5 separate regions of the Homo sapiens genome follow, and all the other regions are linked to region 4. Evidence: fine-mapped expression QTL. A gene starts in region 4. Each other region holds a variant in brackets. All regions are shown on one strand. Distances are between the middles of the regions. Region 1 overlaps PRKAG2 (protein kinase AMP-activated non-catalytic subunit gamma 2). Region 2 overlaps PRKAG2 (protein kinase AMP-activated non-catalytic subunit gamma 2). Region 3 overlaps PRKAG2 (protein kinase AMP-activated non-catalytic subunit gamma 2). Region 4 holds the start of PRKAG2 (protein kinase AMP-activated non-catalytic subunit gamma 2). Region 5 overlaps PRKAG2 (protein kinase AMP-activated non-catalytic subunit gamma 2).

The links. PIP is the estimated chance that this variant, and not a neighbour inherited with it, causes the effect. A credible set is the group of variants that fine-mapping cannot tell apart.
Region 1: its variant is the best candidate, but not a certain one, in a credible set for the expression of PRKAG2 in nasal epithelium (TOPMed, PIP 0.63).
Region 2: its variant is the best candidate, but not a certain one, in a credible set for the expression of PRKAG2 in whole blood (INTERVAL, PIP 0.53).
Region 3: its variant is the best candidate, but not a certain one, in a credible set for the expression of PRKAG2 in monocytes after interferon gamma (Fairfax 2014, PIP 0.71).
Region 5: its variant is the best candidate, but not a certain one, in a credible set for the expression of PRKAG2 in tibial artery (GTEx, PIP 0.62).

What each region holds. Positions count from the first base shown.
Region 1 is chr7:151,698,422-151,704,457 of GRCh38, reverse strand. All of the region lies in intron 3 of PRKAG2 (protein kinase AMP-activated non-catalytic subunit gamma 2), which reads left to right. Among named protein-coding and RNA genes, the nearest start is that of PRKAG2-AS2, 100 kb to the left of the region's middle. The variant A/G (reference allele first, on the strand shown) is at 3,445.
Region 2 is chr7:151,618,463-151,624,498 of GRCh38, reverse strand. The region is part of intron 5 of PRKAG2 (protein kinase AMP-activated non-catalytic subunit gamma 2); the gene reads left to right. Among named protein-coding and RNA genes, the nearest start is that of RHEB, 100 kb to the right of the region's middle. The variant C/T (reference allele first, on the strand shown) is at 3,090.
Region 3 is chr7:151,556,341-151,562,376 of GRCh38, reverse strand. PRKAG2 (protein kinase AMP-activated non-catalytic subunit gamma 2) reads left to right here. Exons shown (of 16, transcript NM_016203.4): 15 at 1,760-1,853; 16 at 5,145-6,036. The coding sequence ends at 5,176. Among named protein-coding and RNA genes, the nearest start is that of RHEB, 39 kb to the right of the region's middle. RefSeq lists an enhancer at 2,440-2,734. The variant G/C (reference allele first, on the strand shown) is at 2,490.
Region 4 is chr7:151,873,631-151,879,666 of GRCh38, reverse strand. PRKAG2 (protein kinase AMP-activated non-catalytic subunit gamma 2) reads left to right here and starts at 2,552. Exons shown (of 16, transcript NM_016203.4): 1 at 2,552-3,160. The coding sequence starts at 3,047. It overlaps PRKAG2-AS1 (PRKAG2 antisense RNA 1), which reads right to left and starts at 2,625. Exons shown (of 3, transcript NR_038926.1): 1 at 2,527-2,625; 2 at 1,801-1,830; 3 at 444-1,105. RefSeq lists silencers at 2,058-2,487, 3,250-3,299, 3,360-3,499 and an enhancer at 3,690-3,809.
Region 5 is chr7:151,678,131-151,684,166 of GRCh38, reverse strand. The region is part of intron 3 of PRKAG2 (protein kinase AMP-activated non-catalytic subunit gamma 2); the gene reads left to right. Among named protein-coding and RNA genes, the nearest start is that of PRKAG2-AS2, 130 kb to the left of the region's middle. RefSeq lists enhancers at 1-344, 345-928, 929-1,514, 3,233-3,900. The variant C/A (reference allele first, on the strand shown) is at 2,785.

The DNA.
Region 1 (6,036 bases), 180 kb after region 4:
AGTCTATAGCCACATGCAGCAGTGTGGCTGCATCTCACAACCAACACTGAGCAAGAGAAGCCTGAAGCAAAAGAATACAAAATGTGCAGCTCTGGGTCACAAAATACACAGCCAGGCAAAACATATGATGCTAGAATCATGAAGATTAGTTAGAAAGAATAAGACCTACTATTTGATAGCACAGTAGGGTGACTGTAGTGAATAATAACTTAATTGTATATTTTAAAATAACTTAAAAAGTGTAATTGGATTGTTTGTAACTCAAAGGATAAATGCTTGAGAGGATGGATATCCCATTCCCCGTGACCAGCTTATTTCACATTGCATGCCTCTTTCAAAACAGCTCAGGTACCCCATAAATATATACACCTACTATGTACCCACATTTTTTTTTTTGAGACAGAGTCTCGGTCTGTCATCCAGGCTGGAGTGCAATGGCGCAATCTCGGCTCACTGCAACCTCCGCCCCCCAGGTTCAAGTGATTCTCCTGCCTCAGCCGCCTGAGTAGCTGGGATTACAGGCACCTGCCACCATGCCTAGCTAATTTGTGTGTGTGTGTGTGTGTGTGTGTGTGTGTGTGTGTGTGTGTGTGTGTGTGTGTGTGTGTGTGTTTTCCAGTAAAGACAGGGTTTCACCATGTTGGTTAGGCTGGTCTCAAACTCCTGACCTTGTGATCCACTCACCTCAGCCTCCCAAAGTGCTGGGATTACAGGCATAAGCCACCGCGCCCAGCCAAAAAAATTTTTTTAAATAGAAAAAGAATGATGATGATTATCTGAGGAGGCAGGTGGTGCCTGGCAGGGAGATTGAAGGGGGCTGCCATGTGGGTAGTAACATTCCTTTCCTTCTCTGGGTGCTGGTTACATGGATGCATGAACTTTGTGCAAATTTGTCAAGCTGTACACTCTCAATGTGTGCACTTTTCTATATTATGCTCCATAAAACATTTTTTAAAGCCCAAGTGGCCAGATGATGTGGGAGAAGTTCCTTGAGTTGTTCTCATCAGTAAGACAACTGAGGGCTTGACGGAGCCATCCAGTGCTCCGGCCACAGCGGAGAGCAGAATCGCTGCTATCTGGGCAGAAGACACTGCAGGGGAAACACCAGTTTATTTGCTCATTGGTAAAATAAACTGAAGACACATTGAAAAGCAGCTGCAGGAGCTCTGAAAACAGATTTCCTTTCTTAGAGCACCCGCAGTCCTTTGCAGGGTGCCATTCACTGTGACGGAGAAGGTGCGCTTTTCCTCTTTCCTTCTTTGCTTCGCGCGCGCTGATGAGTGAGTCAGAGAAGCCATCATGGCCTTGAAGAAAGATGAGCTATTTGAGCAGCAGGCAATGTGAGAGGCTGAAGGGCTGGCAGAGGTGTCTTCTGCCAGGTGTTCCCTTTTCTCCCTGGGCAGGCAGGTTAGGGAGCCCAGCATAGAGGCTGGGTCCCTGGAGAGATGAGCAGAGGTGAGTAGTACATGGACGGATGCTTAGAGGCAAAATCGTGCCCTTGGCAGTTTGACATTCACTCTACTTGCTCCAGTTCTCGGAACTGGAAGGCGAGAGGTATCACCCCCAGCTTCTGGCATTCCAGACCTACAGTCCTGAACTTGGACCCTTCCCAGGAGAGACCTTTGGGCTCTGGTCCTCGCCCTCCTTGCCATCACCTCATCCCCTCAACCAAAACTTTGCTATCCTAGGGGCTGTGCCCCCCAGGCCTTCACTCTGATCATTAATTCATGCTAGAGTCTTATTATCCAATAACAGGACTTGGTGTTTCTCCTGAGAGTATTTTAACTTGGGATTCTTGGGACTATGAATGCCTCCATCCTAAGGAATGCATTGCCAACTGGTGAGTGTGAAACTTCAAAGTTGCATTTGTCTGTGTACAGAGCGGACCTGGCAGTGCCCTGATGGGCTTCCTGGCAGATGGGGAGAGGAGATAGGGGAAGGAAGGCAAGCGGGTGGGCAGGGACCTGGCAAGACTGCCGTGGGGGCTCCCTCTGTGGGTGGGACTCTCAGGATCAGTGTGGACCTGCATCCCCATCCGTCTGCTGTCAGCATGGACGAAAGCTCCGGCCTGAATGTCTAGGTGGACTTTCTCATGTCAGGGAAGAGAGTCAGTGTGTGCCTACTGATGTCCCTTTGATGATGAGGCCTCCTCTCTCTTTTGGGGGACCGGCACTAGGGATGTAAAGGATGTGGAAGATGCAACTGGGCTACCCCAGCAACTTTTTCTGAAAATTAAACTTTTAACCTTTGCTTCTTTCTTAGAAAGCATTCTGCAGAACACCACCCTCCAATCGAACTCCCCGCACAGGGGGAAGTGTTCTGTATCCATGCTGTCCATCTTGGTAGCCACCAGCCACATCTGGCTGTTGAGCATTGGAAATACGGACAGTGCAGCTGGATTAGCACCCAGGGCTACCATACACAACAGAGCACCACACACCGGGTGGCTTCAAACAGCAGAAACTGACTCTCTCACAGTTCTGCCGGCCAGAAGGCTGAAGTCAAGGTGTGGGAAGGTTGGTTTCTACTGCAGGCCCTGAAGGAGAACCTGCTCCCCACCTGCCTCCTGGCCTCTGGCAGTTCTCGGCAATCCTTATTCTTTTTTTTTTTTTTTTGAGACAGAGTCTCGCTCTGTCGCCCAGGCTGGAGTGCAGTGGCGCAATCTCGGCTCACTGCAACCCCCGCTTCACGGGTTCACGCCATTCTCCTGCCTCAGCCTCCCGAGTAGCTGGGGACTACAGGTGCCCACCACCAGGCCGGCTAATTTTTTGTATTTTTAGTAGAGATGGGGTTTCACCGTGTTAGCCAGGATGGTCTCCATCTCCTGACCTCTCGATCTGCCCGTCTCGGCCTCCCAAAGTGCTGGGATTACAGGTGTGAGCCACCACGCCCGGCCGGCAATCCTTATTCTTTGGCTTAAAAAGATGCACCGCTCCAATCTCAGCTTCCATCTCCCTGTGTATCTGTGTCCACGTTTCCTCCTCCTTATAAAGACACCGGCCACTGGATGAGGACCCACCCTAGTATGACCTCATCTCAACTTGATTATATCTGCAATGACCCTATGTCTAAGGTCACATGCACAGGTACCAGGGTGAGGTTTTCATTGTATCTTTTTGGGGAGACACATTTCAACCCATAACAGCAACTAAGGAGCTGAACTTGAATTTTATAAAGAAATAGCTATGTGAGGCCAGTGGCTGCCTCTTGGACAGCACAGGTAGAGACTGGAGGGAGAAGGTGGCTAATTTAGTGTTTCTGTTCAGACCTCCTCCTCCCCCGGCCCAGTGACGCAGGCCTCAGGTCTGGGTCAGGTGCCTGCTCCAGTGGGGCTTCCCTGGGGGGCAGCCCCTGAGGAGTGGGAGGTGGAAGGGGGTGGACTCTTGTGCCTGACAGCTGAGGGGAGGAGAGGACAGGCGTCTGCTGGGTGCTCGTGTGTGCAGC[A/G]CATTGCATGACTCAGTTGGCACATCAAGGCTGCATAATGCTCTGTGGTCTCGCCTGTGTGGAAATGCCTGGGACATCCTGTGTGATCCCTGCTCGGATTTCCCGGGCAGGCTGGATGGGTTCTGCATGGATGTTTGACCTCTAAACGGGCAGGCCAAGCACTGAGGATTATTTGGGGTTCGGCACAAGGCCAGGCTCCCCCCGTGTGGAGGGGATGGGTGTGGGAGGTTAAGGGAACTATGGCCTGGCCACATAAGGGGAAGCCTGGAAGCTACCGTCAGCTTCTCCAGGGCCTGGGACGCGTGGCGGAGATAGCCCCAGTCTTCTCCCAGAACTCAGATGATCTCCTACAGCAGGTGGCTCTCAGGGTGTGAGCCCCAGACCGGCAGGCCTGGCATTACCTGGAACCTCATCAGAAAAGCCAATTTCTGGACCTCCATCCCAGTTCCCAAATCTGAATCTCTGAGGGTGGGGCTCAGAAATCCACAGATTCACAAGCCTGCGTTAAAAAGGGGGTCCTGATTCTTGCCAAAATTCGGAACCCCTGGCCTACAGCCGCGTATCTCACCCTGACGTGTCTGTCGGTCACTGAAGAGTCTTGTCAAAGGGCAGATTCAGGCTCCGTAGGTCTGGGGTGGGGGCCTGGAGGTCTGCGTGTCTAACAAACAGGCTGCTGGTCCTCAGACCATACTCCAAGGAGCCAGAGTCTACAAACCTGAGCTCCACGAGGGCTGGGCTCTTCTCTGTCGTGTTCACTGTCCCCAGCACCCAGAACACAGCCCGGCGTATAATACGCCTCTTTCTTTTCTAGCCACTCAACTTAAAACACTGCTGCAGAAGGAGCTGCTAAACGTCACCCCCGATTTCCCTTGTTGGGGAGGAAACATCATTTTGCAATGATGCAATGACTTATTCAAAGACCTGTTTCCTATGAGATGACAGGACAAAAACCACATTGCCGAGAACTCCATCACCAGATTTCAGTGGAACTATTTCATTAATCTTGTATGCAGCAAAATGTTGGCAGGTACACAAGGCTCCTGTTGAGGCTGTTTCTGCAATGTGGGGGCACCCATCTGCGGCCGCCTGTGGCAGCAGAGCACTGCCCCTCTACTCCCTTCTTCCTCCGCTATGTACCCCAGTTTATCTTAGTCCCAGTCCTTCTTAAAGACCAGCCTATATCAAGAACCTCCCCACTGCCTCCTCTGAGGGCCTGAGCACCTTGCTGTGTCCCAGCCTCCTCGTCCTGCTTTCAATGATTGATGAAAAGATTGACGTGTCCTCCATCAGATGCTTCCTGCACTGTCTTAATGGCTCATGCATTTCTTTCTGGCCCGTAGGCTGGGTTCTGTTACCCCAAGCCCAGGCACTGCATATCCCACTTCCAGTTCTTCCCTGTACAGCCGGTGCCCAGTGAATACTTCTCATCTCATTGATTCACTGATTTATTTCAAAGCAAAAGTAGTCTGAAAGGCCCTTTGCCATTTCTTAATCATAAAACTAAACATCTCCAACAGGAAGGAGGGGCCTCCTGTGCTGGCCTTCATGATAAAGTCGCCGAGATGATCTCAATCCCAGTGAATTCACGGCTCCAGGGCCACCTTAGCGCCTCTTTCTCAGCAGGGGGCTGAGATGTAACCGGATCGTAACCACACAGGCATCCGGCCAGCAGTCAGCATCTCCCGGAGATCTGCTGGGACTAGGCCTGCAGGCAGCCTGACCGCAGGGAGGGAGGCAACCTTCGTGGGAGATCTTCAGAAATATTGTTCATTCGGTTTCTCAAGAGTCTCCAACTACAGTGCAGTTTAGCTTTCACAGCTTACATCCCAGGTGTCAAAGAGACACAACTTGGGGCAGGGATGGGGACAGAGGTCAGAGAAGGAAAGGTGGCCTAAGGGCATTGAGGGGTGCTCCCCAGAGTTTGCAGACTGGCTCTGCAGACTTGCAGGTCATTTCCTGTACCCTGTCCTGAAACCCTCCCACGGCCCGTTTGAGCCTATCAGTCATTTACACTGTAGCGAGAAGTTACCTGATTTCAGGACCTTCTTGCAGAGGTGGGTTTTCCTAGGGTTCCACGTGGCATCTCAGGGTGGCTTGGAGTGGTCCAAAGAGCCAAGTCCTTGCATCTGGATAGGTCTGCAAGGGGCTGACGCTGGTATCCATTGCACCCATTCCCCTGCCTGTAATGTGGATTCCCTCAAAAGCAGAGCTGGTGACAAGGGTCAGGGAGTTGGTTTGGGAGATTGTGTTAGTCCATTTGTGTCACTATAAATATCTGAGTTTGGGCAAATTATGAAGAAAGGAGGTTGATTTCAGTTCACAATTCTGTAGGCTGTAGGAGAAGCATGGTGCTGGTGTCTGCTCCTGGCGAGGCCTCAGGAAGCTTCCAGTCATGGCAGAAGGCAAAGGGGGAGCTGAGGTGTCACATGGTGAGAGGGCAAGAGACAGGGAGGAGGTGCAAGTCTCCTTCAAACAACCAGGCCTCGTGTGAACTCATAGAGCGAGAACTCATTCACTACCACGAGGACAGCACCACGACATTCGCCCCCATGACCCAGACTTCTCCCACCAGGCCCACCTTCAACTCGGGGG
Region 2 (6,036 bases), 260 kb after region 4:
CTTTTGGCTAAATTTTAGTCACTTTTTAATCTGTTTAATATGCTGCCACGGCCGGGTGCTGTGGCTCACCCCGTAATCCCAGCACTTTGGGAGGCCAAGGTGGATGGATCATTTGAGTCCAGGAGTTCGAGATCGGCCTGGGCAACATGGCGAAACCCTCTCTCTATAAAAATAAATAAATAATACAGAAAATTAGCCAGACATGGGAGGTGAGTCCCATGCCTCCTGAGTCCAGGAGGTTGAGGCTGTGCTGAACCATGAGGGCATCACTGCATTCTAGCTGGGGCAACAGAGCAAGACCTTATCTGAAAAAAAAAATATATATATATGTACACACACACACACACACACACACACACACGCTGCCTTCTGTCCCACTTGGAGCTGTTTCCCATGTATCTGAATTTATATAACATCAATGAGGTTTCTGAACATCATGCTAACTGATTCATTTTATTTTAGGTTGTACTTTGGTCATTTGTAACTGACAGGAAGTTGCTAGCAATAAGTTGTTATTTTATGAATCATTTTCCACATTTTCTTGGAAGTGGAATGTTTCATTGTTCCGTCAAGACCTCCTCCCCAGTACACACATGCGCATTGTAAGACGCTTATTTACCCTCTTTCCTTGGCTCTCAGTCTTCACGTTGACTTCTCTAGCTTTGAAGCTTATACATACATACGATGTAACCCCCCTTTTTTTAATGCATGTGTAATTAGAGCCATAGCAATTAAGAGCATGAGTCAGATTCACCTTAGAGTCTCATTTCTTCTACTTAATAACTGTGAGAACTTTAGTAAGTTTCTTAAAGCTTTGGTTTCTTCATATGTAACTTGGAAATAATAATAGTACCTAGCCAGGAGGATTATATGTGGATTAAATAACATGGGCATGATATCCACTAGAGCAGGGGTCCCCAACCCCCTAGCCACAGACCACTACTGTTAGGAATCGGCCCACACGGCAGGTGAGCAGCAGGCGAGCGAGCATTACCTCCCGAGCTCCGCCTCCTATCAGATCAACAGCAGCATTAGATTCTCATAGGAGCGCGAACCCTATTGTGAACTGCACAAGCAAGGGATCTAGGTTGCACACTCTTTATGAGCTTTTTTTTTTTTTTTTTTTTTTTTTTTTGAGACAGAGTCTTGCTCTGTTGCCCAGGCTGGAGTGCAGTGGCGCAATCTCGGCTCACTGCAAGCTCCACCTCCCAGGTTCCAGCGATTCTCCTGCCTCAGCCTCTCAAGTAACTGGGATTACAGACACTTGCCACCATGCCCAACCAATTTTTGTATTTTTGTAGAGACGGGGTTTTACCATGTTGGCCAGGCTGGTCTCAAACTCCTGACCTCGTGATCTGCCTGCCTCAGCCTCCCAAAGTGCTGGGATTACAGGCGTGAGCCACCGTGCCCAGCCTTCCTTATGAGACTCTAACTCATGCCAAATGATCTGAGGTGGAACAATTTCATGCTGAAACCATCCCCCTGCTCCCCCATCCATGGAAAAATTGTCTTCCATGAAACTGGTCCCTCCCAAAAAGGTTGGGGACCACTGCATTAGAGGGCCTGGGATGTAGTATGGGGACCGCTGCATTAGAGGGCCTGGGATGTAGTACAGTCTCCATCAGCAGTAACTGCGATGATGACTAGGAAGACAAGAAGAAACCGAGCAAAAATTTAAAGTGATTCCAGCGATTCTGTTCTTCTGCACTGTCAGACTTTGCCCCATGTGGACACAGGTATGTATGCCACATATAGTTGGCAGCTTTTGCGATTGGATGTTTGTGCTTATCCCTGTTCCTGAGAAATGCTCTCAGGAAAGATGGTGTGTCACCATTTTACAAATGAAGAAATTCAGGCTCAAGGGTATCAATTTGTTCAAGCTCACAAGAAAGGCAGTAACAATTCTGACCTAGGGTTGGTCTAGATGCTTCTGTCTTCTCCATTGCCTCCCATTTGAACTGGGAGTACCTTGAGTAGTCCCCATTGGTGAACACTGGCTTGCTACCTGACATCTTCTATTGGTGACTTATTGTAATGGCTCTGCCAATGGTTTTTTTGTGTTTTGATTTGCAGTAGTAATTCTTGTCAGTGCTGTCACACAGTGTAAAAACAATGGCACGCCATAGTAGAAACTGTCAGAGGACGCACAACAGAAAGATCCATTATATTGCAAAACCCCAAAGAGGTGCACACATTTATGGACGTATGTGTAATCTCTGCGAAACTCCAGTGTTTCATTGTGAGTTAGGATAGCCTTTTGTCAGAGTCTCAAACTTCAGGACACTTGCGGGGACTTGGATGAAGTGCCCATCTTGAATTCATCAGAATGAATTCACCAAATTGCTCTGCCACTCTTGTGACTCAGCGGTTTGCTGAATATATTCACTTACCTCTCTTCCCTCCTAAAGTCTACTGAAATGACATAGATCAGTGAAATCAACTACAAAGGTAGTCATGCTTAATAAAAACAAAAACTTAGTTCTTGGATAAGTCAGTAAAGTGGATAAACCTTTGTCAAGTCTGTTCAGGAAAAAATGGGAGAAAATGCAAAGCTTTAGAAAGAAGAGAAGCTTCTTAACTATAAATGCAGAGATCTTTAAAAGTAACGTTGATCAAAGCACACCGGCCGGGCATGGTGGTTCACGCCTGTAATCCCAGCACTTCGGGAGACTGAAGTGGGAGGATCCCTTGAGCCCAGCAGTTCAAGACCAGCCTGGGCACCATGGCGAAACCCCATCTCAACAAAAAAAATACAAAAACTATCCGGGTGTGGTGGTGCACGCCTGTGGTCCCAACTACTTGGGAGGCTGAGATAGGAGGATTGCTTGAGCCTGGGAGGTGGAGGTGGCAGAGAGCCAGGATCACACCACTGCACTCCAGCCTGGGCAACAGAGATGGTACACTTTAAATTGGCGAACCTGTGAATGTGAATTATATCTCAAACTATTTTTGTTGGTTTTTTGTTTTGTTTTGTTTTGTTTTGTGACAGGGTCTCACTCTGTCACCCAGGTTGGTCTGCAACTCCTAGGCTCAAGCCATCCTTCCACATCAGCCTCCCGAAGTGCTGAGATTACAGGCGTGAGCTATTG[C/T]ACCCAGCCCCAACAAAGCTATTTTTTAAATAAGATAATGAAAGGTCTTATTCCTCTTCTGCTACAGAAGAGCATACCATTCTATTCAGCCTGTTTATGGATGAATTCTGTAAAACTTTTCAGGAACAGTTAATGCCTTATTTAAATTATTTTAGAACATAGGAAAATATGGAGCACTTCCCAGCTCCTTCCGTAAGGCTAGCTTGATCTTGAAATCAAAGCCAGAGGAAGATAGCACACAAAGAAGAAAACAAGCGATCAGTCTTACATTTAAAATGTGGCCAAAGCTCCTAAACAAACACTAGCTATGCAGGATTAAAAGCCGAATATATTGTGGTCAAGTAAGGTTTATCTTAGAAATGCAAGTATTCTTCTGTTGATTAAGAAATCTAGGCTGGGCAAGGTAGCTCTTGCCGGTAATCCCAGGCCTTTGGGAGGCCAAGGTGGGCGGCTCAGGTAATCCCAGCCCTTTGGGAAGTCAAGATGGGTGGATCGGGTAATCCCAGGCCTTTGGGAAGCCAAGGTGGGTGAATCACTTGAGCCCAGGAGTTCGAGACCAACCTGGGCAACATGACAAAACCCCATCTTTAATTTTTTTAATTAAAAAAAAATTTTTTTAATCTATTAAGGAGCTGGATGTGGTGGCTAACACCTGTAATCCCAACACTTTGGGAGGCCAAGGTGGAAGGATCACTTGAAGCCAGGAGTTCAAGACCAGCCTGGACAACATAGCGAGACTCCCATCTCTACAAACAATAAAAAAAATTAGCCAGGTATGGTAGCGGATGCCTGTAGTCCCAGCCACTCAGGAGGCTGAGACAGGAGGATTGCTTGAGCCTGGCCATTTGAGGTTGCAGTGAGCAGTGATCATGCCACTGCACTCTAGCCTGGGCAACAGAGTGAGACCTTATCTCAAAAAAAAAACAAAACAAAAAAACAAAGCCATCTATTGAGAAATCTAGTCCCAGCTTCTTGGGAGGCCATGGTAGGAGGATCTCTTGAGCCCAGGAGTTTGAGGCCAGTCTGGGCAACATAATGTGATCCTATCTCTAAAGAAAGAAAGAAAGAATGAGAGAGAGAAAGAAAAAGAAGAAATTGCCTAAGGAATTAATGTTGTTGATAAAGGAGAGAAACTGGTAGTCATCTCAGTAGATACTGAAATAGCAATTAATAAAATTCAACATATGTTCCTTTTTAAAAATCGTTAATAAACCAGGGATATGAGGAAACTTCTTTAAGTAGCTAAAAGTATACCTCATGACAGCCAGCGGGGGCAGCAGCTGTATAATTCCTGGTGCAGGTTGAGTCTCCCAAATGCGTGGAACTGGAAATGTTTAGGTTTTCTGATTTATTTATTTATTTTTATTTTTATTTTTATTTTTTATTTTTGAGACGGAGTCTCGCTCTGTCACCCAGGCTAGAGTACAGTGGCGCGATCTCGGCTCACTGCAACCTCTGCCTCCTGGATTCAAGTGATTCTCCTGCCTCAGCCTCCCGAGTAGCTGGGATTACAGGCATGCGCCACCATGCCCAGCTAATTTTTGTATTTTTAGTAGAGATGGGGTTTCGCCATGTTGGCCAGGCTGGTCTTGAACTCCTGACCTCAGGTGATCCTCCCACCTCGGCCCCTCCAAAGTGCTAGGATTTCACAGGCATGAGCCACCGCGTCTAGCCGGTTTTCTGATTTTTTTCAGATTTTGGAATATTTGCATATACATAATGAGATATCTTGGGGATGAGGACTCAATTTTAAACACGAAATTCATGTTTCATATATACCTTATATACATAGTCTGAAGTTATTTTATACAATTTTTTAATAACTTTGTGCATGAAACAAAGTTTGTACAGATTGAACCATCAGAAAGCAAAGGTGCCACTGTCTCAGCCACCCTTGTGGACAGTCTGGCATCACCATCGTTCCTGACTCTGTATTTCTATGCTACTGATAAATACAGTGAAAAACCGATGTGTTCAGGGTAACTTATGGCATTGTGTTGGCACTCGGAAAGTTTTGCATTTTGGAGCATTTGGGATTTTACGTTTTTGGATTATGGATGCTCCACTGTACCTGCCAAGGTGGGTCTCACTCTTCTGGCCTGGCTGGTGCTTGCTGCTTCATCCCTGTGAGCTCTCCTTGGCCATCACCGTTCTCCAGCTTCATCACTGGGTTTTCTTCCCTGAGAAAGGAATCATTGGCTGTGGTAGATGCTTTAATTATGTATTAATAGTTCCTAGAATTCTATGCAAAACCATTTTAAAATTCTGACAGGAGCCACATACAATTTCAAGGTCATTGCTTTGTCCGTGACTTTCCTTAGGCATCGATTGCAACTCACTTTGAACTAATTGGGCAAACTCTGCCTTGATCCTGCCTGTGCTTTTTCTTCTTTCCTAATAACTCTTTTACTGCCCCCTTATTTAGAAGAGTGTGTGCATTTTCTCGCCCGTGTACACATTTGCCCCCACACACAAAACCAAATGCAAAAAGCATGGAAAGGGGAAAAAAAGTAACAGACTTCATTTATTCTGCCACCTTATAATTGTAAATCCTGTAAAATTATGTTTAAGATTTGCCTTTGTTTCTGTTCATGTTTCTAGGCACTTTAGAAAAACTTAGGGGTTTTTATTTTATTTTATTTTTTGAGACGGAATCTCTCTCTGTCGTCCAGGCTAGAGTGCAATGGTGCGATCTCAGCTCACTGCAAACCCCGCCTCCTAGGTTCAAGCAATTCTCCTGCCTCAGCCTCCCAAGTAGCTGGGATTACAGGTGCCCACCACCATGCCTGGCTGATTTTTGTATTTTTAGTAGAGACGGGGTTTCACCATGTTGACCAGGCTGGTTTCAAACTCCCGACCTCAAATGACCCACCTGCTTCGGCCTCCCAAAGTGCTGGGATTACAGGCATGAGCCACCACCACACCCGGCCTATTTTATTTTATTTTA
Region 3 (6,036 bases), 320 kb after region 4:
TTCCTATGTCCCTGTTTTCTATCAGGGGTATCACTGTTCAATACAGAGAGGGTCTCCCAGGGCGCAGCCGGCACAGAGCTGCCGTGGCCCAGGTTCTGAAGCCTTTTTTTTTTTTTTTTTTTTTTTTTTTTTGAGACAAAGTCTCACTCTGTCGCCCAGGCTGGAGTGCAGTGGCGCAATCTCAGCTCACTACAACCTCCGCCTCCCAGGTTCAAGCGATTCTCCTGCTTCAGCCTCCTGAGTAGCTGGGATTACAGGAATGCACCACCACGCCCAGCTAATTTTTGTGGTTTTGGTAGAGACGGGGTTTCACCATGTTGGTCAGGCTGGTCTCGAGCACTTGATCTTGTGATCCGCCCACCTCAGCCTCCCAAAGTGCTGGGATTACAGGCGTGAGCCACCGCACCCGGCTCCAGGTTCCAAAGCCTTTTTTTTTTTTTTTTTAAGACACAGTCTCGCTCTGTCGCCCAGGCTGGAGTGCAGTGGCACGATCTCAGCTCACTGCAACCTCCACCTCCCAGGTTCAAGCAATTCTCCTGTCTCAGCCTCCTGAGTAGCTGGGACTACAGGTGCCCACCAGCACTTCTGGCTAATTTTTGTATTTTTAGTAGAGACAGGGTTTCACCATATTGGTCAGGCTGGTCTTGAACTCCTGACCTCAGGTGATCCGCCCGCCTCGGCCTCCCAAAGTGCTGGGATTACAGGCGTGAGCCATCGCGCCCGGCCATCATGAAGCTTTTAAGAGAATAGCAACGCCGCTCCCTTCCTGCGGGTGAAAGGCCTGTTACAGAAACACCTCAAAACGCTCTGCCGTCACTCATCAGAGATTTCAGAGTAGAAAACTAGAGATGGACGTAGTCTATCCCACTTCATTATAGCTCATTTATCCTCTTGGATGCGATTCTTAATATATGAACTTCACAGAGAAAAGACACTGCAGAAAATAAAACCCTTGTAAGAGCTGCGACCTTGTTTCTTCGTTTCTGTCATCATCTGGACTTCTCTCCCATGTATTAATAAGACAAGTACCTGATAGTTATTAGAAACTGATATACAACTTTTAGAAATTAAAACAGTTATGTTTAACAATGTATGATAGCTACGTTGTGTTTCGTGTTTGAGTTGTATCTTTTCTATATTAATATTTTGAAAATTGAAAACTCAGCAGGGCATAGCTAGCTCATTTTTCTTAAAAGTAAGCAAGCAAATCAGCTTGAATTAGAGACAAATCAGTATCATTAGAGACAGGAGATAGATAGCTTTCCCCTCTTTCCTTCTCATGCCTGTGTCCCTGTTTTTCACCAGGGCTGTGACTTTTTAATACGGAGTAGGTCTTCCAGGTAATCAGACAGTAACACATTGAACATTAGAGCCTAAGGTCATCGTATGGGTCTGTCTGTGGCTACTTTCCCTCATTTATTCATTTATGGGATGTGTGTGTGTGTGTTGCTTTTTTCTTTTTCTGAGACAGGATCTCACTCTGTCACCCAAGCTAGAGTGCACTGGTGCGATCTTGGCCCACTGCAACCTCCACTTCCCAGGCTCAAGCAATCCTCCCACCAAGTAACTGGGACCACAGGTGCACACCAGCACACCCAGCCACTGTCTAATGTTTTTGTAGAGATGATGTCTCACTGCTATTCCCCAGGCTGGAGGGATGTGTTGATCATATAAAAACATGACAGGACATTATTTCTCATGTCCATTTTAAACCTTTTTTAAATGTTAATTTTCACGTGTCCTGCTTTTCTCTTTGCAGGTCCATCGGCTGGTGGTGGTAAATGAAGCAGATAGTATTGTGGGTATTATTTCCCTGTCGGACATTCTGCAAGCCCTGATCCTCACACCAGCAGGTAAAATGCTGGTTTCTGACCTTTGCCATCGGCGTCTAGGAAGGGTGGGAGGTAGAACAGGAAGTGCAGCATTTAAACCATCATTTCTCCACCCACCTACAGATCAAGGCTTTGAGTATATTACTTTGAAACCATTTTCGTTTTCTCTTCAGTTGGGAAGTTTAAGTGTTCTGCGTGAGTGAGGAAAGTGTATAGAACGTATTCGAAGTTAAGAGCATCCTATCAAGGTCCAGTGGCCCCCTAAATGACTTGGGAGCCATTGCCATGTTCATCATAACCTTTTCCACTGAAAAGACCTCTTCAATTGTGCTTTGTGAGAGAACTAGTGACCAGAAACATAGAGGGAACGTCACTGGCTTCTATTTGATACCTTCATCTTTCCTTAAAGAGAAAAAAAACTTATATTTTGAGTAGATAAAACAGAATACCTAAACACAAACTTTTATTCATTAATATTGTACAGAAATCACATTCACTTTCAGATAGAGTGTGGTTAAACTCATTTTTTGACAGATTCACTTTGAGCAAGCCTTCAGAGTCTCAGACAGTGAGGAGCAGAGAGAACGGGAGAGGGCTTTAGACAAGAGGAGCTGGCCTTCCTCTCATTTCACACACTCAGTAGTAAGAGGTGGGCTT[G/C]AGAGTTCTTAAAACTGCCAGCCCTCCCTTCCCTCCTCCTCTTCCCATCCCTCCACCTCCCCAGCCCCAGTCAAATATGAACAACCCAGCCTTTGTCAGGGCCACATGGACCCGATGTGGGAGCAAACAGCATGCCCTTTGAACTCTCAGAATCCAATATTAAACGGTGTGTGTGCTACAGTATTGATTTCTCTTTAGTTCAGAAATTTCAGTTAAGACTAGTTTTTACAATTAAGTCTGTAACCCAAAAATACCTACCCTAAAGGAATCTTCACCACCTGCAAGAAACATGTCTTATTCGCTAAATGAGAACACCAAGAGAAATTCCAGTACAGCAGTGATTTTTCCGAGGTGGTCCTCAGGCCAGGCATCATCACCACCACCTGGAATTTACTAGAAAATGAAATGTTCATGTTGGGGCCCCGTCCCATATCCACTGAATCAGAAACTCTAGAAATGGGGCCTGGTGCAGTCACTTGCAAACTTCAAGTGTTTAAAAGACCTGAATCTCACAATAGTCTCTATAATCATGAAACATTAAGAACTAAACGAATGTTAATGCCATAAAACTGGGAATAATCCAAATATCTTTGAAAAGAAGAATGGATAAATTGTGTCACATTCATTCGATGGAATACGATACAGGATTGAAAACGAACAGTACAGCTGCATTCAACAGTGGAGGAATCTCACAGGCAACATTGAACAGAGGGAGCCAGGCTCATCCAGACCATCATTAAATTCATATAAATTTCCAGGCAGGCATAACTGCACAGCACATTTGTGCTAACTAGAAAAGGCCTCTTCTCTGGGCAGATTTATCCCCACAGGTATATAGCTTGGCACCTTCAGAAAAAGATGCCCCGTTTCCAGCCCTGGACCACGGGACACAGTCTGCCCAGCGGGTCAGGCTGAATGTCAGCTCTTGTCTGTCTCTTTGGGCATTACAAAAAGAGTAAACAAGTCAAGCGATTCATCCTCTCTGTTTCTTGATATCTCAAACCATAAGAATGAACGGTTGTGCTGGATGAGTTCAAATTTCCATCCAGATTTGGTATTTCAAAAATTCTAAGTCATTGCAATGCCCCTCCCATCACTGCTGGTGCAGAGAGGAATCTATTTCCAGCTGGAATTTGGAATGTATGTTACCATAGAAATTGTGCCGTGAAGATGGGGGTAGCTGGGTTGGAATTCCTTATGATACAGTGTATACAACACGATTTGTTGAGGAAAACATTCCGTGTTACTAATAACTGGATTACAAGTGAACTTTTGGAGTGGAACTCAGGGAGCGCCTGCATCTGATCAACAATCGCAAGTGAGGAGGCCCCCACCGTGAGGCCAAGTCCCAGCTGTCCCACCCGAGCGCTGTCTGAATGTAAGCAAGTCGCTTCACCTCCTTCAGCCCCAATTTCTTCAGTAGAGAAGGAGCCGGCTGATACAGGCCCGTCTCCCTCCTATGTTGCTATGAAAAGAGCTGAAAGCCGTGCACAAAAGCCATGTGTGTGCAATGAGGCGCAGTGCCCGGGACCTGCACTGTTAGGTGGTTGTCCATGGAATAGTCAGTAAGAGGCAGTTTGATGAAGTGTCTGCTGTTACTCGATTAGAAGGTACTAGTGGTGATTCTTTTCATCGGGCAATGGCCACCGTTCCCCAGAGGGGTACTGGTTCAACACAATAACACTTTCTCTTTCTCAAAAAAGTTTTTAGCAACAGTTCATTGTCAAACTTAGACTGTCCAAATGAACCCATGTGTGCGTGCATCCAGTGTGTGGGCAGTCTGATGCCAGGAGCTACGGTGTTTCAGCCACACGCTCTAATAGATTGCCGATCTCTTTCAGGGGTCTAGCGTCTGGTGAAAAATTAGGAGAGAAGCTCCTGTGATGAGAAAAATAGTAGCTCTCCCTGCCAATCCACTGTGGAATGTCCTAGCCAGATACTTGTTAGGTGCAATTATCCTTCAGAATATTTATAAAGGTTTTTTTTTTGTTTTTTTGTTTTTTTTTTTTTTATTTGAGACGGAGTTTCACTCTTGTCAACCAGGCTGGAGTGCAATGGCATGATCTCTCGGCTCACTGCAACCTCCACCTCCCGGATTCAAGCGATTCTCCTGCCTCAGTCTCCCAAGTAGCTGGGATTACAGGCGCCCGCCACTACGCCCAGCTAATTTTTGTATTTTTAGTAGAGACAGGGTTTCACCATGTTGGCCAGGCTGGTCTTGAACTCCTGATCTCAGGTGATCCGCCCGCCTCGGCCTCCCAAAGTGCTGGGATTACAGATGTGAGCCACCGCGCCCGGCCTAAACCTTTTTTTAATACATATTTGTAAGAGTGCACAACTGAAATACTTCACACCTTCACTAAAACATACCTACATATTTCTTAGTAAAATTTTTTAAGAGTGGAATTCTTTTTTTTTGTTTTCCAAGTTAAATCTGACATATTTAGAATGACAAGATGTTACGTGGATCCAAGCTGCCCGAACGATTGGGTGGGAGATGGGAGCTTGGGCCACCTGCTCCTTCCCACATCGCCCTCCTCCGAAGCCTCTGGATCATCCTCCTAAGGCACTGCCAGACACAGGTAGAAACCCCTGGGGTAGAGAACCCTGCTGTTACCATGAGCTTTGAAACTTTCATCTTCCATCCACTGACAGGTGCCAAACAAAAGGAGACAGAAACGGAGTGACCGCCGTGAATGTAGACGCCCTAGGAGGAGAACTTGAACAAAGTCTCTGGGTCACGTTTTGCCTCATGAACACTGGCTGCAAGTGGTTAAGAATGTATATCAGGGTTTAACAATAGGTATTTCTTCCAGTGATGTTGAAATTAAGCTTAAAAAAGAAAGATTTTATGTGCTTGAAGATTCAGGCTTGCATTAAAAGACTGTTTTCAGACCTTTGTCTGAAGGATTTTAAATGCTGTATGTCATTAAAGTGCACTGTGTCCTGAAGTTTTCATTATTTTTCATTTCAAAGAATTCACTGGTATGGAACAGGTGATGTGGCATAAGGTGAGTGCACGGTATGTTCAGATCACAGTGCCTTATGTCCGAATACAGCAATATGTCACCGCCGCAGCCGGGGCGCACGCGTGTGAAACAACACCGAGCTTGAATGTGGAAGTCTTTGAACCTTTTACCAAATCAGTTTGTTTTCTTTAGATTTGTCAAAAAGTTGTAATTTGAATATAAATAATTACTTTAAAATTGTAATGACACTTTTACACGTAAGTGTTTTGTTCTGGGCTACCGTGTCAACGAGGCTGCTTTACAACAGCTTTATTTATTTTTACTTTCATGCAATTTTTTTACACATCTTTTGGTGGAGTAAACTTCACCACATCCATGAATAAACTCTCAGTTATTTTGAAATGGCAAATTTCTCATTATTTAAGTTTGGATCTGGAAAGGACATGACTTCTGAAATAGCCGCTGCTGGGTTTTAAAAGCTGAGGTCTCTCAAAGTGTGGAGGAGACGTTGCCGTCAGGCGGGAGCCAAGTGCCGGGAAGATGTCTATTTTTTTTCTTGTGTATTGAAATGTAAAATC
Region 4 (6,036 bases):
TTCATTGGACAGACACGATTGACGACCATGCAGAAATGTGATCGAACAAAAAGGTATGATCCAATAGTGACTGAGTAAGTGTGGACACCCAAACAAGTCCTGCCTATTCCGACCGTTATTGGCCTTTCCGTGCAGGATTTCTTCCTCTCGGGAATGGGGCAGGACCCCTTCTGAATAGAGGGTCTTAAGTCCCACAATCAGAAAGATGAGGGAGGATTAGAGTCCTGCCTTGGGCTGGTGAGGTGGTGAAGGAGGGCAGGGGAAGTTCAGAGGAGATTGTTTCCTGGGGTGTCTGAGGCCTAAAGCGCCCCAACATTATAACAAGAGACTGTGATGAGGGCGACGAGAGTGCTAAGCCAGGAACCCTGGACAAAACCCAGAATTTATACCTCGTCATATCACAAGGACCAAAAAAATTAAAAATTAAAAAAAGGCTCTTAAAATGCAGGCAATACAGTAAAATGTTTTAATGTAGGAAGCACTAAAGTCTTTGTTCCAACAAAATTAACTCAGAGAACAAATTATTTTACATATGTATACAGATCAATCAACAAAAGTACACATTATAACAATTGCTAAACACTGTCCATAAAGAAAACATTTCAAATGAGAAGCGCCATCGCGGTTTTCTCCTTCTGGGTCACCCAGTGGAATGAGGGCCCTCGCCAGGGGCTCTTCCCAGACGTCTCTTCACACCAACCGGCTTCCTTCTGATGGCCCCATTTTCCTTTAAAACCAGTTCTCATCAAATAGGGTGTTTTATGCACCCTGGCAAATGATCATTTTGACAAGGATTAAAACTGTAAGCTAAACAGATGACACAAATGACAATTGGGAATAATTTTTAGTGGGGACAGAGGCTAAATACTACCCCCTCCCCTTTTCTACTTCTAACCAATATCTTGAGCATTCAGTGGGACAATACAGTCTTGCTGGGTCTCTTGAAATCCTCTAGCAAGAAGCCAGCCAGGAGAAGACCCAGAAGTCCCACACCTGTGGGGCCAGGATGGCTGCTTGGTTGCTAAACCCAGACAGGGTCCTTCCAGTGCATCTGCCCCTGTCAGGCTCTGTCTCGAGACTGGGGATCTTCCAGGCTGGCTTCATTCTGGACCAGAGAGCAGAGGAGAAGGAGAAAGAATATAAACCCACCCCTATGAGCCAGGGAACCACCCAAGCTGTAAGGATTTTGTGCAAGCTGCTGGAACTCGGGTTGGAAAAGCCACCCGGCAAGCAGCTGAAAGGAAGGATGCTTCTCCCTGCGTGGGCGCACGCCTGCTTCCTAAGAGATGATCCTTTGGGTGGGCTGATCATGCCTCCTCCTCTGGGGAGGGAGTCCTGCGAAAGCACGCACCTCAAAAGGAGTAAAGGCCCTATGGTGTCCCCAAAGCGACCCCTGTCGCGTTCTTTCTGCGGGTGGCCTCCCTGCATTACTGATTACTCGGAGCGGCTGAGCTGACGTCAGCATTCTGGGAGCGCCAATGACCTTTGGGGTCATCACATCCTCAGAAACTAGAGCAGGAGGGGAAGCGACCCCCAAGCCAGCACTCCCCCTACTTTCCACCAGGGAGCCGAGGTCGCGCCATCCTGGGGCGCATCTGGGGGTGGGGGACACACCAGCCCCCTCCCCCAACCCCTCTAGGGCCCTCGGCAGCAGGCGGTACTGGATGCCCACCCGGGGCTCTAAAGGACCTGGGCCGCACCGGGAACCCTCGCCCGGGTCTTCGAGCCCTCCCCTTCTCCCAATTCTTTCCGCAGTCTCAGGAGCCCCACGTTTCCCGCGGCGTGGGGACACGCACTTACCGCGGATCCACTGCGCAAACCTTGATGAACCTGAAAAAAGCAGGGTGGGGTGGGGTGGGGTGAGGGTGGGGGTGGCTAGACCCTGCTCGCACCCAGCGCCACGCACCGCTCTCTGGGCGGGTTCGAGTGCGCGCGCCGGGCGGGGCGGGACCCGGGGGCTGCGGTGTTTCGAGAAGCACGTGCTACTTCGCGCGCAGCGCCCCCGGAGACTGTGGGCTTCCTCGCTGCCTGGTCTACGGCAGGGCGGGCGCGGGGGCGTGTTTCAAAGGGTAGGGCACACAGTGAGACGCCGGGAGGCGGGATGGATCCGAAACCAGCTCGCAGCGAGTCCCAAGCGGCTGCGGCCGCCGCAGGGGTCTGGGCGCGGCGACGAGGGCGGCGTGGGGCGACGGGGAGCGGGACGGTGGCGCTGCACGCCGCGCACTTCCTGTTCAACACGCGCCGCCTCCCACCACCCGCGCTCCCCGAGCTTGCGTCGGTGCCAGGCCCGGCCCCTCACTGTCCCCTTGCGGTCCCCTGGGGCCGCGGCGCGGCGGGGGGCGAGGAGCGGGCGCCCTGCCCTTCTTGGCCCGCTGGACTCCGGGCGCCCCCTCCGGCGCGCAGGGCCGCGAGCGCCGCCGCCAGAACTTCTGCCAGCGGCCGCCCGTAGCCTAATTGCGCAGAGGGCTCGCCTTGCACCTCCTCTTCCCCCGCCGCCCTCCCTCTCGCCCAGAAAGGAGGACGGACCCAGCTGCAGGCTCCGAGCTGGTTTATTCTGCGGCCGAGGATTACATTTATGCACGAACGGGCTTACTGGTTCCAGATTCCCCACTTGGGCACAGGCATAGGAGGCTTGTTTTCCAAATTGCTGGTTTTAATTGCACCTGCCTTTCAGATTACCTCTGGGAATCTGTGGGAGGAGCCGAGAGGGTGGAAAATGTTTCTTAGCTTTGCAAAAGGAAGAAAACTTTGTCACCCAGCGGGAGACCTCAGCCACGAGTAACCCGGGGAGACACCAGAACCGGGACGGGCTTTGACTGATTTGCCTACGAGGGTTCCGTAGGAAAGGACGCTTGAATTCGGCGCTTCGGCGGCGGCGGCGGCCGCGCGAGTTCCCTGCTCACCCTCCCTCTCCGCGGAAGTCCCCACGAGGTGGCTTCAGGGTGTAACAGAGCGCGCGGCTCCAGTCCGAAGGCAGCGGCCGGGGGAGGGAAGGAGGGGACCGAACCCCCGAGGAGTTTCGCAGAATCAACTTCTGGTTAGAGTTATGGGAAGCGCGGTTATGGACACCAAGAAGAAAAAAGATGTTTCCAGCCCCGGCGGGAGCGGCGGCAAGAAAAATGCCAGCCAGAAGAGGCGTTCGCTGCGCGTGCACATTCCGGTGAGTCCCAGCACTCGGTCCCCTGCTCCCCAGCCCTCCTGTCGCTCCCGTCCCCGGCGCCGAAGCGGTTAACGCTGGACGCCCCGCGCGCGCCGTGCGTGCCCCTCCTGTCACTTCGGGCGGCTTGGGGAAAGGGTAGAGGGACAGGGCCCGAGCTGGGCTGGCGGAGCCGGGGCTCAATCTCTCTCTCTGCCCGCGTGCAGCCAGGGCTGGGGCTCCGCCTGGGGCGGGGGCTGGGCGGCTGCAGACTAGAGGGGGCGCCGGGCGCGGCGGGTGGGCGGCTGGGCGTAGCCCGGTATCCAGCCGGGTGCGGGTGCGGGGGGCGGTGCGTTGTGTTGTTTTGCTGAAAAGGGACGGTGTGGACTGCGCTCCGGGGAGGTGGAGCCCGCGCTCGGCTGCTGGAGACGGAGAGAGGGGAGGGGAGGGAGGAGAGGGGAGGGGCGGTGGGTGGGGAAAGCAGCGGGGCGGGGGTTGGGGGGAGCTGTGTAGCTGCGTCTTCCAATGCACCCCCTCCGCTCCAGTTTCTCTCCGGGCGTTTCTGGGCCTGGAGCGGGGGTCTCCTCTGCCGCCGTTCCCTTCCCCCGCCCCGGGAGTGTACTTTGGGTCTCTGTGGTATTTGGGGGCTCGGAGCTCCCTAATCCGTGCAGGCTGCATTGAACTTCAGCCCCGTCCGCGCCAGCCGCCCGGGAGGACATTGGCGACTCGGATCTGCCTGCGGCTTCACTTTGTCCAGCCAGAGGGGCGGCGGGCCGCGTAGTGGTTCTCTTTTCGGAAGGCGCCCCGGTAGCCCGCGGCCACTGTTCCTCGCCTCCACGTAGCGGGGTAGGGCGGTGGGAGGTGTGGCCCACTGGGTCACACCCTCCGCCTCAGCCAACCAAGTAAATGTTTGTGTACACACACACACACACACACACACACACACACACACACACACACACACACACCAGAGTGCTCCGTAGAGAAAGTTATTTTGCTCTCCCGGGGCAGGGTGGGAGTGCGCAGTGAATGGGCTGTCCGGACCCCTCATTAAAGCTAATCCTTCCCGACAGGGTCAGGCGCAGCTGGCATGGCCGAGGCAGGCCACTCACTTCCCACTGTGAATCCCAGGGCGCACTGCCCCGTGTTTGCTGAGCCACCCTTCTTTTAGACGCCCCGCTAAGGTCCTCCTGTGTAAACTCCGGCCCACACGTGCCTAACGCTTGGGTGAAGAGGGTGGAGTCCAGGGGCGGGTCTCCAGACACCTGATGCCAAGTAGCCCCACAGGGGCCCTGGGCCAGCCCTCCCTGGCTGGAAAGCTCTGGGGCTGGAAACTTGGACCCCTGGCTGCTGTGTGGCCCCCACGGTGGTGACTCGATTATGCAGGAATAAGTGTTCTATTTGAAAATGAAACATTCTTGTTTACATCTCTCATGTAAGACATTTAAAACCATGTTCGTGAGTTAAAAGTTAGATGTTGCTGCCACAAACCTCTTAAACAGTGATCACTTGAGCTAACCGTGTAACTACTGTTTCTCCCATTTGTCAAATGCAGGAAATAATACCCATTTTTCCTGCTTTATACGGATATTGAAATAAAGTAATTCATGGGAAAACTCTTTTTTATTGTTTTTTTTGTTTTGAGTCAGGGTGTCACTCTGCTCCCCAGGTGGGAATGCAGTGGTGCAATCATGGCTCACTGCAGCCTCAACCTCCCCAGGCTCAAGTGATCCTCCCACCTCAGCCTCCTGAGTAACTGGGACTACAGGCATGTGCCACCACACCCATCTAATTTATTTATTTTTTTTGTAGACATGAGGTTTTACCATGTTGCCCAAAGCTGGTCCACATGAGCTGGGCTCGAGTGACCCGCCCACCTTGACCTCTCAAAGTGCTGGGATTACAGGCGTGAGCCATCACACCCATCCCGGGAAAACTCTTGACAAGTGTAAAGTGTCCTATAAATGTATGGCTTATACATATACATATACATATACATATACATCATATACATATACATATACATCATATACATATACATCATATACATATACATCATATACATATACATATACATCATATACATATACATATACATCATATACATATACATATACATCATATACATATACATATACATCATATACATATACATCATATACATATACATATACATCATATACATATACATATACATCATATACATATACATCATATACATATACATATACATCATATACATATACATATATATCATATACATATACATATACATCATATACATATACATATACATCATATACATATACATCATATACATATACATATACATCATATACATATACATATACATATACATCATATACATATACATCATATACATATACATATATACATATACATCATATACATATACATATACATCATATACATATACATCATATACATATACATATACATCATATACATATACATATACATACATATACATCATATACATATACATCATATACATATACTTATACATATACATCATATACATATACATATACATCATATACATATACATATACATCAGACACCTAGTTTTTTAAAAAAATATATAGAGAGAAACAAGAACATGCCATTGTCCAGTGGTTGGGCCATTTTGTGTGGCAGCCACATGCTGAGGCTGGTTCCAAATGCAGGGTGTGAGTGATGTGTGGGCGTGCCCGTGGGGTGGTGCCAGCGATAGTGTGAGACAAAATCCAGAACCAGAAAAAGGACTGTGAGGCCAGGCCGTGAACGTTGAAAAACCATGTTATAGTTGGGGTCCTCGGACCACCCTTCTTGCTGCCAGTGGTGACTTTGGCAGCTTTTCATAACGTTCTTGGCATGAGCCAGCCCACCGCGAAAGTAGT
Region 5 (6,036 bases), 200 kb after region 4:
GTCCCTGAGGATACTGCCCCTCTATTCCCTGGCTCCCCCAGCCTCCTGCAGTTGCCTGCACTGCCCAGAGCCATTCTGGAGTCAGAGGGCTGGGCACTCAGCTCCAGCGGCCCTGGAGGGTAGGGCTCTGGAATGAGGGGTGGAAGGTAAAACCTGCGGGCAATAGGGGCCGTGCGGGGAGAGGGTGTAGGAGCCAGGCCAGAGGGCACCTGAGAAAGGGCCAAAACATTGAAGCAGTGGGTTTGCTCCTTGAGAAAACAGAGTCCTAAGCAGACATCAGAGGCTGGGTTCTGGGTCACCTGCCTGGCCTGAACTTGTGTCACACAGGGTCTCGCGCCGCCCAGGGTCTCCGCCTGCCTGCTGGTTGCATCCCTCTGTGTGCTACAGCTACTCAGCACAGGTACTCCTGTCCCTCTCTGGCTGTGGCACTTTCGTTGGGCACCTCCCTGGGCCACCGTTCCCCCTCACGGCGCTCGCCATCCTCCCTCCAAAGTAGGGAACAACACCTGGCCCCTCACTCTGATGAGTGGTAGGAGGTTTCAAAACCCTGTATAAGCAAAGCCTCCCTCCAGTGTCAATGGAAATGTTGCTCTTCTCACTTCATGGCTCTTGTAACAACAGTCAGCAGAATACATTACTTCCTTCTTGTCGTTCCGTTCCTCAGGCAGGAATGAGGCTCTAGCTCATTCCATTTACGCAGTGGAGGGGCCGGATTGCACCAGATAGGCATCTGGTCTACCTGGTTTATTTTTACCAAGGCAAGGGGTGGATTTGTCCCAGAGCCCATGGCAACTTAGTGGTAAAACCAGACCTAGAGCTTGGGGCTTCTGAGGGCCAGGCCTCTGTTTCCACCCAGCACAGCTATTCCGTTCCAGCAGGGCTCAGTTCCCTTTGGTGGCACCTCTGTTCTCCTCCTCCTCCTCTCCAGCGCCTGCCAGCAGGGCCAGGCCCTGTGAAGTCACCAGCCCATGGCTCCCCAGTGTCTGGACCCCCTTTCGTGGTGTTCTGTGTGGCTGCCAGGAGCAGTTTCTGTTCCCTCGCTGGGCTGTTCACTGGGCCTGGCTGCCGCCCTGGGAGAATCAAAGGCATTGTTCACTGCAGAGGCTGGCGGCGTCCTAAACAAAGTCCTTAAGGAGCAGGAAAAAGGAGGAGATGTCTTCTCAGAAGGAACAGAAAGGGGGCACCTGTCTGTCCTTTGGCCAGAGCCTTCTTGGGTGACTTTGGCCATGGCCCAGTTCTGCCTGGGCCCTTAGGAGAGGCCCCTGGGCCGGGGCAGACCTGTGTCCTCCTCCAGGATCGGGGCCCAGCTCTTTCCTGGGGTTTCTGAGCCACCGTCCCACCCCCACCCTCAGGCCCTCTCCTCTTCCCTGAGCTCCCCCCTGCTTTCCTGGTTCTCGACTTTATTGCATGGTGGTGTTGGGGCTGATTTTTTGGTTTTGTCCCCATTTCTCCTACAGACTACAGGGACTTGCTCTAATCCATCTTAGCACCTCCTTCCTCAACACCCCCAGCATACTTGGCCCGTGGAAGCTGTCCAGGAACTATTCATTTACTGATCAGACCCAAGGTTGAGTTCAGCAGTTGACCTTATGATTAAGAAATACATTGGTCTATTTAAAAGTAATGGGGGGCCAGGCATGGCGGTTCACACCTATATTCCCAGCACTTTGGGAGGCTGAGGCAGGAGGTGACTTGATACCAGGAGTTCAAGACCAGCCTGGGCAACATAGTAAGATGCCATCTCTACAAAAATAAAAAAATTAGCTGGTGTAATGGTATTTGCCTGGAGTTCCGGCTACTCAGGAGACTGAGGTGGGAGGATCACTTGAGCCCAGGAGTTTGAGGCTGCAGTGAGCCGTGATCATACCATTGTACCCCAGCCTGGGCCACAGAGTGAGACCTTGTCTCAAAAAAAGTAATGAGGGATTGTGTCAGCATTGCCCATTTTCCCTTTTATTTATGAATAGTGATACCAACATTGAAAAGAAAAAAAGCTTAGGAATCATTCTTACTACCCACCTTACCTGACTCATAAGACAGTTGTTTCTCTACTGATTGAATAGCATAAACCTGAGTAGAAGTCACTTCTTTGTTGGTCTACCCTTCCTGGCTGGCATGGAAGAAAACCCTCTTTGGGGGAAGCCTGTCCCTCCCTACATGGGGCTGTCCCACCTTAGGAAGCACATGGGGTCCCAAGCTCACTCCGTCTCTGTGCCCTTCTCTCTTCTGTGGCACCTCTTCTTTCCCTCTGCAGTCACCCAGTGTCATCCAAGCTCTCCTTCCTGTTGGCCCCGTGAAGCCCCACTTCTGGGAGAGTAATTCATACAGCTAAAATGTAATTTTAAGTCTTCATGTTCTTTCTCTCGGTGATACCCCAGTTTGATTGTGGCAGAAAGTGTCTGGGTTATAGAGTCAGGACAGTGGAGCTGAGGTGTGGTCCCTGCCATTTATTCGCTAAAGGACCATGGATAAGTAGCTGAACTTTCTCCAGCTACCAGTTTCTTCATCTGTGAGGGGCAGAGGGGGCCAGAGTGTGTAAGCCCTCTGTAAACAGGGTGGCATCGTGCAAAAAACAAAAAAAAAGTGTTGATGCTGCAAGACTCTACCCCCTCTTAAAAACATTTCGGGTATCAGTCAACAGATAGGGCATATGTTAGGTTCCAGGAGGGTTCACTCCCCATGCCCCTAACTACACACATATCCCTAATGCACACACTGTGAGTCTCAGCATTTCACCTGTCCCTTCCTCTAAAAGTTTCCCTTCCCCCTCTGTAGTCCAGAGTG[C/A]CACCTGTTTTCCCCACAGGAGTCACCAGCTCTGGAAGGAACAGGAAGGCCAGGTGGAAAGATGGGAGCAGCTTCTGAACTTGGAAAGATGGCAATGATAGAGAATCATTCAGCCCCACCAGAAATGAGGTGTTCCCACCCCCAAATGAACAGTCCACCTTCTCATCTCCTCGGCCCCAGAGGTTCACTCCTGCATCCCGCCACCTCTCTCACCTCCTTTGGGACTGGGTTAGGATCATTCCAGTACTCACACGGGGGTGGCCTGCAAGGGGACAGGGCCATGGGAGGAGCGGACACCGTGGTTTGTGCTCTTAAGAGCTCTCGGCAGGGGGTGGGGAGGGGCTTGGTCACAGTTGCATTCTCTTTAAACTGTTTACTTGAAAGATGAACGTTCTGTACCCAAAGAACTAGCAAGGAGTTTTCATGGGCTGTGAACATCCCTTGCACAACAGTGACTAAGCTTCATCCCTGAAGAATGTTGGAAGTGGAAAAACTTCTCGAAGAGAAAGAGCAAGGGAGAGGACAGCTCAGGAAGGCACAGCCATGGCCCTGATTCTAGTGGGAGACAGGACAGAGGTCCTGGTCCTGGTCCTCGTGGGAGACACCCCTGCACAGAGCTGGGGGGCGCGTCGGGGCAGGCAGGGCAGGAAGCAGGTCAGTGCTTAAATATGGCCTTCGCCAGCCTCTTGGCTCAAAAGCAAAGCAGTGGCTGAAAAGAAGTAATTTTCTGAATGGATAATCCATTCTCATGATAGAAAGTTTGAAAAATCAAAAAGGGGATATGATGAAAGTCCTCCCTGCCAGTTGTTCCCTTCCCTGGAGACAGCCAGTGTTTCCAGATCCTGCCAGAGATAGTCTAGGCAAAATCAGACAGGCAGAATATAGATACTTTCTTTCCTTTTTTCAAAACTACAAATGGTATCATTCGATACAGATGGCTCTGCAGTTGGCTTTCTTCACTTACCGCTCCATCTTGGAGATGAAAGGAACGAGGATCCCTGTCATGTTCCGACAGGAATGGTGGCTGCCTGTGCCTGCAGATGGGCCATGATTTATCTAACCTCTTCTTGACGAGCCTCTGCGTCTCCAGGCTCTGCTTTTAAAAGCACCATGGTAATGAATAAGCCGACACTTAGTACAGTCGACACTTAGCAATTACACAAATAAGTCTATGGCCCCAGAAATGGAATTACTGGGTCCAGGAACATGCGCGTTTGTGGTTTTGATCAGTGGTGCCTAGATAGGCACCACAGAGTACCTGTTTCCTCTGGGCCTTTGCCCAATGCCTGCATGGGTGCAGTTTGGGCTCATTTTGTTGTGTTGTGTTTTGTGAGATAGGATCTTGCTGTGTCACCCAGGCTGGAGTGCAGTGGTGCAGTCCTAGCTCACTGCAGCCTTGAACTCCTGGGCTCAAGCAATCTCGCCATGTAGCTGAGACTACAGGCATATGTCACCATATCTGGCCAATTTTTTTTTTTTTAATAGAGACAGGGTCTTGCCATGTTGCCCTAGGTGGTCTCAAACTCCTGGGCTCAAGTGATCCTTCTCCCTCAGCCTCCCAAAGTGCCGGGGCTACAGGCATGAGCCACCGCACCTGGCCAGGGCTAGTTTTGATCATGCCCTGCTCAGGGATGGACATAGCTACTTTTCAGCATTGTCCATGGAGGAGGCTTTAGAGATCTCTGTGGCTGGCCCCTTCCTTTACACACGAAGACCCCAGCCCCCCAGAGGGGTTTCTCTGCAGGGCTGTCACAGGTCATGAGGATGTGGGGGGTGGCACAGGTTTTTGAACCTAAAACGCCCCCCACCACATCCTATTCAGCTCTGCCCCATCAGGTCCCTGCACATGCCTACAGGAAGCAGGGGCACAGCCCCCGGGAAGTGCCACTGAAGGGGCCCTGTGTCCAGTGGGGAAAGGGGCTGGGAGAGGAGGATGAGAACATTCCCTCTTGACTCTCAGGAGAGGAGATAGCCTGTCCTAGGTGCATTGTGGGACCAGGACGAGCCCCTGCTGGAGACTTTGTTGCTGCAGGAACCACTGAAGGATATGACTCTGGGGTCTAAGGCCCCAGGCAGTGCCCCACACTACACACAAAATAGCACACAGGCTTCTTTGCTCTGCCCCTGCAGATCCCCCTGAGAGGCCCCGGGCAGGCCTCCCCGAGCCCTGGCTACTGTCTCTATTTCTCAGTGCCAAGCAGCTGGAGCCTGGCCCTGAGAAGGGTCCGGATGGGCCGGCAGCCCTTTTGTGGTCCTGCCTGCTGACACACCCCCATCTCTGAAGAGCTGCTAAACCACATCAGGACCTTCCCACTCTTCCTCTTCCCTCTCCTTCCTCCCCACCCCACCTCAAAGCAGGGTTTTCTTCTCAAGACCTTTGGGGGAAAATATTCTACTTTTCTTTTTTTTCTTTTTTTTTGAGACAGAGTCTCACTCTGTCACCCAGGCTGGAATGGAATGCAGTGGCACAATCTCAGCTCACTGCAACCTCCGCCTCTTGGGTTCAAGCGATTCTCCTGCCTCAGCCTCTGGAGTGGCTGGGACTACAGGCGCGCGCCACTACGCCTAGCTAATATTTGTATTTTTAGTAGAGATGGGGTTTTGCCATGTTGGCCAGTCTGGTCTTGAACTCCTAACCTCAGGTGGTCCACCCACTTCAGCCTCCTGAAATGCTGAGATTATAGGCATGAGCCACTGCACCTGGCCTCTATTTTTCAAGAGTTTGGGACTTTGTTGTGAGGGCCTTTTACATTTTAAGTTTCGGGTCCTAACCCTCTCCTCCTGCTTCCACCCAGAGCTGCCTCCCAAGTGCCAGCCCGGGGCTTCCAGAGGGCTTTCCACTCACACTGCTCAGTCTCCTGAAGGGACTCCCTGGAAAAGGGGGCTCCTTCTCTAATAGGTGACTTCCTAAACCTCCCCCGGACACACAAAACAAAACATGCGCCCCACTCTCCACAGAGAGGAACAGATTCACCCTGACCTTGAGCCGGTCCTCTCACTGTTCTTTCTGTTCCTTGCCTGGTGGCAGCAGGCATTTGCCAGACCCCTTGGCTCAGGACAGCACTGGGTGCCCTGGGGCCCAGAGGGAGTGGCAGGACCCCCGTCCCCAAGACAGACGGTAGATCTTGGTGGGGAGAGGGGACTTACATACTTTTATGTTTGGTTTGAACGTTAAACAGTTTGTCATTAAGTGGTAACATACAGGACAGTGAAAAGGCTTTATGAGTTTGGTGACACGAGGGACAGGAGGAC